Linked DNA regions of Homo sapiens. The protein of the gene in region 1 interacts with the protein of each later gene in a pairwise test. Each region holds a gene or a part of one and is shown on either strand. Other genes may lie near its edges.

Region 1 (3,746 bases):
GATCCTCCCCTGGAATTAACAAGTCCCCCAAGGGTATAGTCTGCCAGTCATCCAGCCTGGCTGGGACATGGTTCAAGTCTACAGGGCTGCCAAATGCCAAGGGCTCAGCAACACAACATCCACTTTCTCCACCTAACTGGCCAAGTTTCAAACCAAAGCACTTCGGGGTTAGTAGTTCAGACTACATAGTGCCAAGGCAAAGCCTCTCTGTGGGCTGATACCCTCTCCCTCACAGAGGGAGGAGGCTGGGCAACGCCAGCACCAGGCTTTCAGGCACATTCCTGCCGGCTTTGGGCCATTCTCAATGTTCCTCAATAGAGGTCTTACCGGCCAGTCTGTATTATGGACAAGCCACTCTGCAGGCTTTTTACCATCACTGGCCAACAGCGCTGAGAAGGGAGAAAGTGCTGATCAACTGTGGCTAAGATATGACTCCACACTGTCCACGCACATGCCACCTGGTGCCCCAGGTGAGTCTTGGCCGGACCAAAGGGATGAAGCAAGAAAATAAATCAGCAGCCTGGAAACAGAGAAATGAGAGCCACCAGAAATCCAGAGGGCACAGCCCCGGAAGGCAGACTGCTGCTGTAGCTCTCCTGGAAGGCCATGGCCCTGCCTGACATGCAGAGGGAAGCGGGTGGGGATTCTGCCCAAGCATCCTGCCCCTCTTAAAACCACAGCACCCTCCACTTCAGTGGCCTCCAACTGCAGACATATGAAAGCGAGACCCTTCCGCTGGAGGACGCCCTGCCCTCCTGGTAGGGTTCTTCCTCTAATCCAACCCCGGACTTTTGGTTGGTACAAAGCACACTACCGGTTCCAGCGTTTGCACAGGGGCACCTGGACACGATGCTCCCGCGGCTAGGGCTGGCTCTCGGCATCCACTAAGTTCAACTGCACCCCTGAATTAAGCAAACACACTAAGGAGGGCAGCCCTGCACCGCCCAAACACGCCGGCCCGGGCCTCGCCCCCAGCGGCAGCACTTCTCAGAACACGTCTTCAACGTCCAGCAAGACGCCCAGGCCTGGCCTGGTAACCTGTCAGGGGTCGGGTGGCGCCGACCCCGCCGGCTGCCCCCAGGCGTCTGCTGGGCCGGGACGCTCCGGCAGCCCAGGACGCGGAGGCACCGAGCCACTTTCCCGCAGGAGAGACTCTATTGTCCACGATCAAATTAACGCTGACGATCTATCTTCCTGGCGGAGCTCGCGGCGCGGCGGGGCGCAGGCGACGCTCGCCCGGCCTTGCAAGACAAGCAGCGCCGCAGTGCTCCCTCGGCGGAGCAGCCGCGTGCCCCGGCCGGCGTGTGTGGACACCCGCACGCACACAGCGCACACCCCCGCCGCGCCGCGGGCGTCCGTGCCTTCCCGAGGCCCCAAGGCGGCCCGGCCCTCACCTTCGATGGCGATGACGTGCTCCCGGATCTGGTTCTGCAGCACCGGCTCCTCCACGCGCTCCAGCAGCTCGTAGATGGAGTAGATGTTGGGGTGGACCGACTCGAAGCGCTGGATCTCGGCCCGGATGGCAGCCGAGTTGGCCAGCTGCTGCTGGTAGTTCATGGTGCAGGCGCCGCGCCCGGAGCCGCGCGCCCCCCGCCGCCGCCGCCCCGCGCCCCGGGGCCCGCGGGCCGCCGAGCCCGGGGCGCCGCAGCCCCCGGGGAGCCGGGCCCGCCGGCGGCGGGCGGAGGAGGCGCGAGAAGAAAGGCGCGGGCGGAGCAGGCGCGGGGCTGGCCCGCGGGCTCAGTTCATGGCCGGGACGCGCGGCCGGCGAGCGAGCGGGCCCCGGCGTCCCGGGTCAGCGGGCCGCCCGGGGGGAGCGCGCCCCCATGGAGCGCGCCGCGGCGGGTGCGGCCGGCCCCGAAGGAGGCTTGCTCGGGTGACTTCCTGAGCCGCAGCCGCCTTCCAGCCCTAGGCGCTGCTCCGCGGAGCAGCCATTAAAGCCCAGGCAGCCGCCGCGCTCCGAGCGCCGGGGCCGAGGGCCGACCCCTGGGCAGTGTGGCCGCGCTGCTCTGGGCTCCTGGCCGTGGCGTGGGTCCGCGCGCTGCGTACTGCGCCGCCCGGCGCGCCGGGGCCCCCGCGCGAGCCCGCCGTGCGCCGCCCGCCGACCTGGGACCGAGTCGCAGGCGCCTTGCAAGCCGCGGAGCCCGCTCCGAGCGCCGCCCGCCGCCTGCCCGGCCGGCCCCCTCCCTGGCACGCAGGGCTCCGGCCCACGTCGGCCCCGCCCCCGCCTTCGCCCTCGCCCGCGCCCGCGCCCGCGCCCCGCCTGCCCGCGCGCTTGCCGCCCTCCGGCCGCCGGCGCTGCGTCCTCCTCGGCGCTTCCCAGCGCGCCGGATCCCGGGGAATTGCGCCAGGCCCCGCCCCGCGCCTGCCTCTGGGCTTCCTGGGACTTGTAGTCCGCGCCCCCGGCGGGCCGGGCCAGGGGGGTGCGCGGGGTGTTCACACTGGGCCGGGGTGCGGGACCCTCCCGCCGGCCAGGCCCCGCGCCTGCCAGCTCCTGCCCGGGTTCTCGCGGCGGCCCCCGCGCCCCGGCACGGGGGAGGCTGCCCGGGAGTTCGCCCGCCGCGTTGTTGTTTGTTTCCAAGCGGCTGGCTCCAGGAGCCTCTGCGACTCGCCAGTGTCCCACGGCCTCGCTTGGTTGGCGAGCCTCCCCTTCCCGCGTTTGGTAACTTTCTGCCTCCTTTCTCAAAGTAGCACACGTGCTTTCCCTTAATACATGCGATTTCTTTCCAAAGGCGAAGCGCCTCCTGAGCCCATGCGGCGTGGGGGTCCACACTCCACGAGTGGACTGAAGTTTAGACAGGGGTGCGAGATGCGACAAAATACCACAGAGGCTTTCGAGGCATCCTTCTCCCTTACAATTTTTAAAAATCGAGCCGTGGATCTCAAGCTGCTGCCTCCTGAGCGCCGCTGCCTGCTCCACGGGGTTCCTTAGCCCCTGGACCGTCTGTCCCACCGCAATCCCCGATTTAGGTCATCCCCGGGGACCCCCCGCGGAGCTGGGACCGCACTGCAGCAGCGCTTGGAAGGCTCGTCTCGCCGCTTTGAGGCAAATGGGACCCTTCAGATTTGCGGAAGCACTGGCTGCCGGGCGGTCCCACAAGGTCCTGGATTGAGGACACTGGCTGAGTCCCTGCCCCCAGCCATCGGCGTGGTCTTTCTGAAACTCAGCCAGCCGGGCCGGCATCCCCGTTTAAAGCCTGCTGAGCCTTCACCGGCTCACATGCAGTTTGCTATGGCCTAAGCACCCTGGTATCCAGCCGTGTTGGCTTACTGGCTGGGCTCCACAACTTCCCAAAGATGTGCTGACATTTTTACCATTCCGGACCTGCTTGTCTTCTCCTTGACACTTAGGCACAGGTCATCACTCCATGCCTCGGGCTGTCCACGCATAAGTAACTCTAGTAACCAAGAGGCAGGCATGTGGCCTCACCAAACCTGACCTATCAGCAGCAGCTGATCACTTGCGCTCCTGGAAACCCCTTCTCCCAGTGCTCACCAGGGCTTCCTGCTGTGTTTCTGGCTTCACTGTCCCTTTTGTGGTTTTCTTCTACTCCCCTAACCTCTAAATATGGAGGGCCCCAGGGCTTATGGTTAGGCCTCTTTTCTTTGCTATTTGCTGTGATCGCCCCTGTCTTATGGCTTTGAATATCATACACAGGTTAATGAAGCTCATATGTATCTCCAGCTGTGACCTCACCCCTGAATAACAAATTCACATCCACCTGCATCCTCAACATTTCCTGAAGCCT
Region 2 (3,746 bases), on another chromosome or scaffold:
GAGGTTGCAGTGAGCCAAGATTTTAACACTGCACTCCAGCCTGGGTGACAGAGTGCGACTCTATCTCAAAAAAAAACAAAAAAAAAGCACAGACCTCACCCTGACCAAAGCTCATGCAGAGCACAGGCCCCTCAGCCCTCTGTGGATCACAGTGCTCAATTCTAGATATAGACTATAGTAGAATCCTTTTATCGATGTGCACTATGTTCCAAGAGCCCCAATGGATGCCTGAAACCTCCATCAGTACTAAACCCTATTAATTCCCCTTAAAGACTCCATGTTACAGCTTCTCACTGGCATATCCAAATTGTCAGCATCAAGGCCGGGCGCAGTGGCTCACGCCTGTAATCCCAGCACTTTGGGAGGCCGAGGCAGGTGGATCACCTGAGGTCAGGAGTTCAAGACCAGCCTGGCCAACATGGTCAAACCCTGTCTGTACTAAAAATATAAAAACTAGCCGGCCGTGGTGGTGGACACCTGTAATCCCAGCTACTCGGGAGACTGAGGCAGGAGAATTGCTTGAACCCAGGAGACAGAGGTTGCAGTCAGCCAACACAGTGCCACTGCACTCCAGCCTTGGCGTCAGAGTGAGACTCTGTCTCAAAAAAACCCAAAAAAAAAATTGTCAGCATCAATCAATACTCATGTGCCTGGAGGGCATTGTTAAGGGAAAAAAAAAAGGGTTACATGAAAAAAAAGCACTGAGATACCATAAAAGTGGATCTCATCCAAAAGACTATTGGCCAAGTACGGTGGCTCATGCCTGTAATCCCAGCACTTTGAAAGGATGAGGCGGGCAGATCACCTGAGGTCAGGAGTTCGAGACCAGCCTGGCCAACATGGTGAAACCCCATCTCTACTAAAAATACAAAATTAGAGAGGCATGGTGGCGTATGCCTGTAATCCCAGCTACTCGGGAGGCCCAGGCGGGAGAATCGCTTGAATCCGGGAGGCGGAGTTTGCAGTGAGCCGAGATCACGCCATTGCACTCCAGCCTGGGCAACAAGAGCAAAACTCAGTCTCAGGAAAAAAAAAAAAAAAAAGACTATTAAGTGACTAACGAGCAGATACAGTCTAAAGTCAGCCCTTGGTATCTCTGGGGTACACATCAATGGATTCAATCAACTAGACTGAATAATTACAAAAAATGAAAAAAAAATAGCAAAGTGCCAGGATTACAGGCGTGAGGCACCGCGCCCGGCCTAGAAGCCTCCAAGCGGTTTTAACACGCAGGTAAGCGACCTCCAGACTCTCTAGAGAATGTCTGAATTTACTTGGAGTGGATAGAGCGGTGCCGGGACTTCAAGGTCTGCATGAGCCCTCAGATCGCGGGTGTAGAAGCACACAGGAACTGGGCAGCCTAAATTTAATCTAGACAAAGGCAAACTCACGAGTGGCGGCTTAGACAGTCTTTCCGCGCAGTCGGGTGCCGGGTCTACAGGAAAAAGCGCGCGAAACGTTCACTCCATGATCTCGACTTCCGGGTCTGCAGGAAATTGCGCGCGCATCGTACAGGCCGGGCCCGGGGCCGAGGGCAGGGCCGGGACAGGGCGGGCTCAAGGCGGGGTCTATGCTTCTGTCAGTCTGACTCAGCGATCCTGTTTTAGGGTTTTGGAGGCGAGATCTGCTCAGCACTTCTGTAAACAGATCTGTAAACAGATCTTGCTGGGGCAGAGCAAAATCGGTTGGTGATTAGATTAGATCCACGAGAATTCCTGTTATTACAATAAATTTTAAGTCCCAACTACTCTGGAAGCAGAGAGAGAAGAGAGCGTGAAAAGAAAGCAAAAAGAAAGACAAGGCCGGGTGCGGTGGCTCACTCCTGTAATCCCAGCACTTTGGGAGGCCAAGCCGGGCGGATCACGAGGTCAGGAGATCGAGACCATCCTGGCCAACATGATGAAACCCCCGTCTCTACTAAAAACACAAAAATTAGCTGGGTGTGGTGGTGGGCGCCTGTAGTCCCAGCTACTCGGGAGGCTGAGGCAGGAGAATCACTTGAACCCGGGAGGCAGGGTTGCAGTGAGCCGAAATCGTACCACTACACTCCAGCCTGGCGATGGAGTGAGACTCCGTCTCAAAAAAAAAAAAAAAAAAGAAAAGAAAGAAAGAAAATAAGACTAGAGAGAAATAGTGCAACAAAGAAAAGAATGTAGGTGTCTGTGCCTGTGTGTGAGAAAAAGGGAGAGACAAGAAAGAACGAAAGAAAGACATTTTTTTTGTTTGTTTGTTTGTTTGAGAGTTTCGCTCGTTGCCCAGGCTGAAGCTCAATGATGAGATCTCGGCTCACTGCAACCTATGCCTCCCAGGTTCAAGTGATTCTCCTGCCTCAGCCTCCCGAGTAGCTGGGATTACAGGTGCGCACCACCACACCCGACTAATTTGTTGTATTTTTAGTAGAGACGGGGTTTCACCATGGCCAGGCTGGTCTTGAACTTCTGACCTCAGGTGATCTGCCCGCCTCGGCCTCCCAGAGTGTTGGGATTACAGGCGTGAGCCACTATGCCCAGCCAGAAAGACAAATTTTAGGAATTAAGACACTTTGGAACTATCTGTGAAGGGGATGGAAGCTAAAGTGTGAAATGCTAAACCCTGCCAGAGTGGAATGCGCAGTATCATGCCAATGCCCCATAGAATAGAAATACTTTTTTTTTTTTTTTTGAGATGGAGTCTTGCTCTGTCGTCCAGGCTGGAGTGCAGTGGCACAATCTCGGCTCACCGCAAGCTTCGCCTCCCGGGTTCACACCATTCTCCTGCCTCAGCCTCCCGAGTAGCTGGTACTACAGGCACCCGCCACCATGCCTGGCTAATTTTTTTTGTATTTTTAGTAGAGACTGGGTTTCACCGTAGTCTCGATCTCCCGACCTCATGATCCGCCCGCCTCAGCCTCCCTAAGTGCTGGGATTACAGGCGTGAGCCACCGCGCCCGGCTAGAAATACTTTTCATTTACATTCCCCATTCACTCCAGAGGGTGAGGTCAACCCTGTGCTCAATTCCAGAAACTTTCCTAGGGACACCACCTTGGGCATAGAGGACTAAGGTCAGTGTGAAGTCAGGTCACCAACTCTTTTTAAAAAAGCCAATAACTTTAAAAATAGGTATAAATTATTTAGTTTAAGACTTTTTTTTTTTTTTTAAAGACAGGGAATCAACCTGTGACATCCAGGCTGGAGTGCAGTGGCACAATCATAGCTCACTACAACCTTGACTTCCTGGGGTCATGGGCACCTCCTACCTCAGTCTCCCGAGTAGCTGGAAGTACAGGCCTGTGACATTGGACTGTGCTAATTTTTTAGTTTTATATATTATTATTACTTTGTAGAGATGGAGTCTCACTTTGTTGCCCAGCCGGGTGTCCAAGTTCTGGCCTCAAGTTTTCCTTCTGTCTACACTCCCAAAGTACTCAAATTACAGGCATGAGTCACTGTGCACAGGAGGTAAGGACCCCACATCAGGACCTCAGGTAGTTTTGAAACACAAATACGTAAGATCCACAAGCAGGACTATTGGCTAGAGACAGTGGGGTCACCTGAAGAAATTTTCTTTGACCTGAATAGCAACTTCTCACCCAGGTCACTGGGATCCCGGACTATGGCACTGTTCCAGGCAGGCCTGGTTATCCTGCTTGAGGCAGCAATCCTCTTGAGCCTAGTGAAATGCAACTGGCTGTACCTCAGTGATGTCGCGCTGAGATTCTGCCAGTCAAGATATTACTTCAATCTCCTGAGACAAGCCTCTACCTCCA
Region 3 (3,746 bases), on another chromosome or scaffold:
AACCATTTTCATTACTAGGAAATTAGGCTGTGAAGATTAGTATTTCCCTAACAACAAGGAACTCTTGTTACTTTTTTAGAGCATATCAAACATCCAGATTACAGAATGTCTTTTGCAGTCACCTTTTGGTGGTTCTAGCCACCCTTATGTTTAGATTGGTTGCTTCCTCTTCTTACCCATTGTCTGACAGTCAGAAAGGATAGAGGAGGAAGAAGACAAGACACTATCCAGTTGAGAGTCTACTCTTAGTAAAACTCGGTAGCTCCTGGCAGAATGTACTGGGGTCAAATGCAATACTAATCAAGGAGTTTGGTGTGCCATAAAACTTGAGAATGGTAAAAGTAGAAATTAATGGGTTAAACAAGTCATTTTCCAGAATGAAAGGAATATTGGTAATGGTATCAACAGACGAGGACAACAGCAACAACAAAGTCTTTATACAAGCCTGCAACACGTGACAACTGCGGATCAGGCATCTGAACCCGGCCTATCTTTCCACCGTATCTTCCTACACTTTTCTTTATGTACTTTTTATTTCTACCAGATGGTATTACTCCTTGTTTCTTGAATAACAGTGTCATGCCTTTCCAACCTCTGTATGTTTGCTCACAAGTTTCCCTCTGTCAGAGAAAAGCAAAAACAACAAAAAAGTCCTCTATTTTATCTTTTTCCAAACATAACCAATCCTTCAAGTCCTATCTCTAGTACTGTTCCTTTATGAACCCTGTCAGACAATATCTCATTTTCTTCTGAATGTTCATAGCATTTACTTAAAAATAGTATGACTTCCCTCTTCTTTTTACTAATGAATTACTGTGTATTTTTTAAGTTTCCTTCTACATCTGAAGTTCTAAATATTCTTAGTACAAATGTCCTACTGATCTAAGAGAGTATCATGGGTTAAATGTAGAGGAAGAGAAGTTTCTGAGATGGCAGGAAGGCAAAAGTTTCTGTGACTACCTGTGCTTATATTGCTGACTTTCTTAACTGTTCCTGACTTATTTAAATGTATTTTTTTCCTGATTCTGATTAATGTTCACTATGAGGCAAGCACAGTAGGCAAGACTGGGAGAAAGTTTGCAAATGTGATGAGCTTACAAATGGGACCAGATTAGATGGTGTACTTGGGGGAGATATAAAAGAGGAAGATAACCATGAATTGAACTGAATTGAAAATGGATCACATAAAGATCATGATTAATTGTTAATTCACAATGGAACAGCATGATGGGATTTTTTTAAGTCAGAAAGGTGACTAAAAGCATAATATCACAACACACACAACGGTAACAAATATAACTAAATGCACTGAACCAGGCAGAAGCCAGACCTTACTGAAAAGATGTAAAATCTCTGTAACCATAAAACTGCATCTGCAAATGAGTAGATTGGCTTCAAATCTGAAAACCAGGACAAGAGAGTCATCAGCGCAGATGTCAACTTCCCCAGCAGAAATGTTGGAGTTTTTAACTGTGGAAAACTACAGTTTTTCCACACCAGTGCATAGTGGAGAAGACATGTTTTTGTTTTTCTTTTTAAGTGTGCCAAATTTTCCTGGAGTCCCCTCCAATTTTTTTCTTTCTCTCTCTCTCTCTCTTTTTTTTTTTTTGTCCCCTGCCCCTAGGTCTCTGTCTCCACACAGTGATTTCTGTTATGGCGATTGGGCGGCTGCAGAGACCAGGACTCAGTTCCCCTGCCCTAGTCTGAGCCTAGTGGGTGGGACTCAGCTCAGAGTCAGTTTTCCAGAAGCAGGTTTCAGTGCAGAGTTTTCCTACACTTTTCCTGCGCTAGAGCAGCGAGCAGCCTGGAACAGACCCAGGCGGAGGACACCTGTGGGGGAGGGAGCGCCTGGAGGAGCTTAGAGACCCCAGCCGGGCGTGATCTCACCATGGTGCGTTTTGGCTGCTACTTTCTTTTTCAGTCTTTCGGTGCGGAGAAGGGGAGGAGGCGGGCAGAGGTCTGAAAAAATCGAATGCCTTATGGAAAGGAACTGCAAGGGTTCCTTTGGGGTGATCAAAGAGGGAGACACAGACACAGAGAGACAAAGGCAAGGAGGACTGTCTGGGAGCCACGCGGGCGATACAGTTTCCGAGGCACGCCGCGTCCCGCCTAGCCTGTTGAACAGGTAGACATGAGCGACCCAAGCGTAAGTGCCGCTGCCGCGAGTGCCCAGGGTGCACTCGCGCGGGGACCGACAGGTGCCACTGCAGGGTCCCCTCTCCCGCTCACTGCCTGCCACCCCTGACGCCTGCTCTCTTTCTCCATTCGCAGTGCGGATTTGCGAGGCGCGCCCTGGAGCTGCTAGAGATCCGGAAGCACAGCCCCGAGGTGTGCGAAGCCACCAAGTAAGTGGTCGCTGCATCCCCACGCGGGTCGGGGTTCTTCAGACAGGCGGTCCCTCTTCCGGGACCCCCGCTTGGGCTGGGTCTCCTTCCTCTCCTGAGAAACCTTCGGTACGCTCCCAGTTGCCCAGCCCTGGGAAGCCAGCATCGGGTTCCCACGCTGGGGAGGAGCGAGAGGAAAGGAGAGGACGCCCGAGGGGCCGGCCCAGGGCCCGGGGGACCCGCGGCGCCCGAGGGAGGAGCACAGACGGGGGTGGGCGCCGAGCAGCGCCGCGCCGGCTGCTGAGCTCGCGGGGCCGGGCCGTGAGAACGCGCGGGGCGCGCCGGGGCCGCTGGTCTCCCACGGCCAGGGCGCCTGGGCCCCAGAGCCCATCAGCCGCGTGCAGCGCTGCGGCCTCCGGCGCGCCGGCAGGCAAGCGAGCGGGCGCAGCTGGGGGATGCCTGGACCCCGGAGGCAGCAGGGCTGGAGGCGGTGGCGGGCTTCAGGGCAACTTCACCCGGCCGGCTGCGGCGTGGGTAAGAGGCGCGTCCTCCTCCACAGCAAAAGCTGCGATCGCTGGGCTGCCCAGAGAAGGCAGCCGGCTAACTGCCCAGCGGCTCCACGAGGTGTGCGCGTGTGTGCGAGAGAGACAAATGATTTACTGCTTAGCAGTCCCATTTCTGTTTTCGTTAGGACTGCGGCTCTTGGAGAAAGCGTGAGCAGGGGGCCACCGCGGTCTCCGCGCCTGTCTGCACCCTGTCGCCTGAGCTGCCTGACAGTGACAATGGTGTGAGGGGCTGCGTTGCAATGTGGTCATGTGATTTCAGGCTATGGATTTCGTGCGTCTTTCTCTGCTCACTGATTTTCACATGGTTATTCTTTCATTTTGCACTCGATAAACAGTTTACATCTTCTGAAGTAAGCCAGAAGATTGTATGGCTCACTTAACGATGACTGGTTGAAGGCATCTTGATTTGGAACCTATGGAAACAGTGCTGAGTTTTAAATAGGACAGATTTTTTTTTCTTTCATTTGAACTTCATTTATAACATATCAATAGTGATGTTTTAGGATCAGTTCTCCTATGGTAATTTCACTAAATGCCTATTTAATGAATTGATTTGATTTCATACATCTCTACCACTTACTAGAACTGTCTTTGTACAAACGTCAAACTTTCCTGTTACATATGGGTAAGCATAGAAGCACTTGATATAATTTTTTTTTATCTTGGTTCAGAGTGTAGAAGTGGTCTGTTGCTTTTCCTAAAATTGCTATACATATTTTTTCTTTAAGAGTGATCATTTCAGGTACCCTATTATGTACAGTGGTAAAAAGTAAACTCGTTATGATAGCAACGACGATGTAACCAAAATAAGCAACACTTAATTGGTCTGAAAGTTATACATATAAGCTTTATTATT

What was found.
Region 2: the proteins of AGAP1 (region 1) and ZNF534 interact in binary tests that used the Homo sapiens proteins (3 or more experiments, as listed by UniProt).
Region 3: the proteins of AGAP1 (region 1) and GUCY1A1 interact in a two-hybrid assay, tested with the Homo sapiens proteins (one study listed by BioGRID).

Annotation. Positions count from the first base shown.
Region 1 is NC_000002.12:235,492,498-235,496,243, reverse strand, and holds the start of AGAP1 (arf-GAP with GTPase, ANK repeat and PH domain-containing protein 1), read right to left. Parts: upstream 2,202-3,746; 5' UTR 1,558-2,201; coding exon 1,395-1,557; intron 1-1,394. UniProt on the Homo sapiens protein: GTPase-activating protein for ARF1 and, to a lesser extent, ARF5. Directly and specifically regulates the adapter protein 3 (AP-3)-dependent trafficking of proteins in the endosomal-lysosomal system.
Region 2 is NC_000019.10:52,426,890-52,430,635, reverse strand, and holds the start of ZNF534 (zinc finger protein 534), read right to left. Parts: upstream 1,489-3,746; 5' UTR 1,392-1,488; intron 1-1,391. UniProt on the Homo sapiens protein: May be involved in transcriptional regulation.
Region 3 is NC_000004.12:155,665,075-155,668,820, forward strand, and holds the start of GUCY1A1 (guanylate cyclase soluble subunit alpha-1), read left to right. Parts: upstream 1-1,773; 5' UTR 1,774-1,891; exon of another isoform or gene 1,892-2,146; intron 2,147-2,263; exon of another isoform or gene 2,264-2,271; 5' UTR 2,272-2,345; intron 2,346-2,587; exon of another isoform or gene 2,588-2,779; coding exon of another isoform or gene 2,780-2,948; intron 2,949-3,015; exon of another isoform or gene 3,016-3,515; intron 3,516-3,746.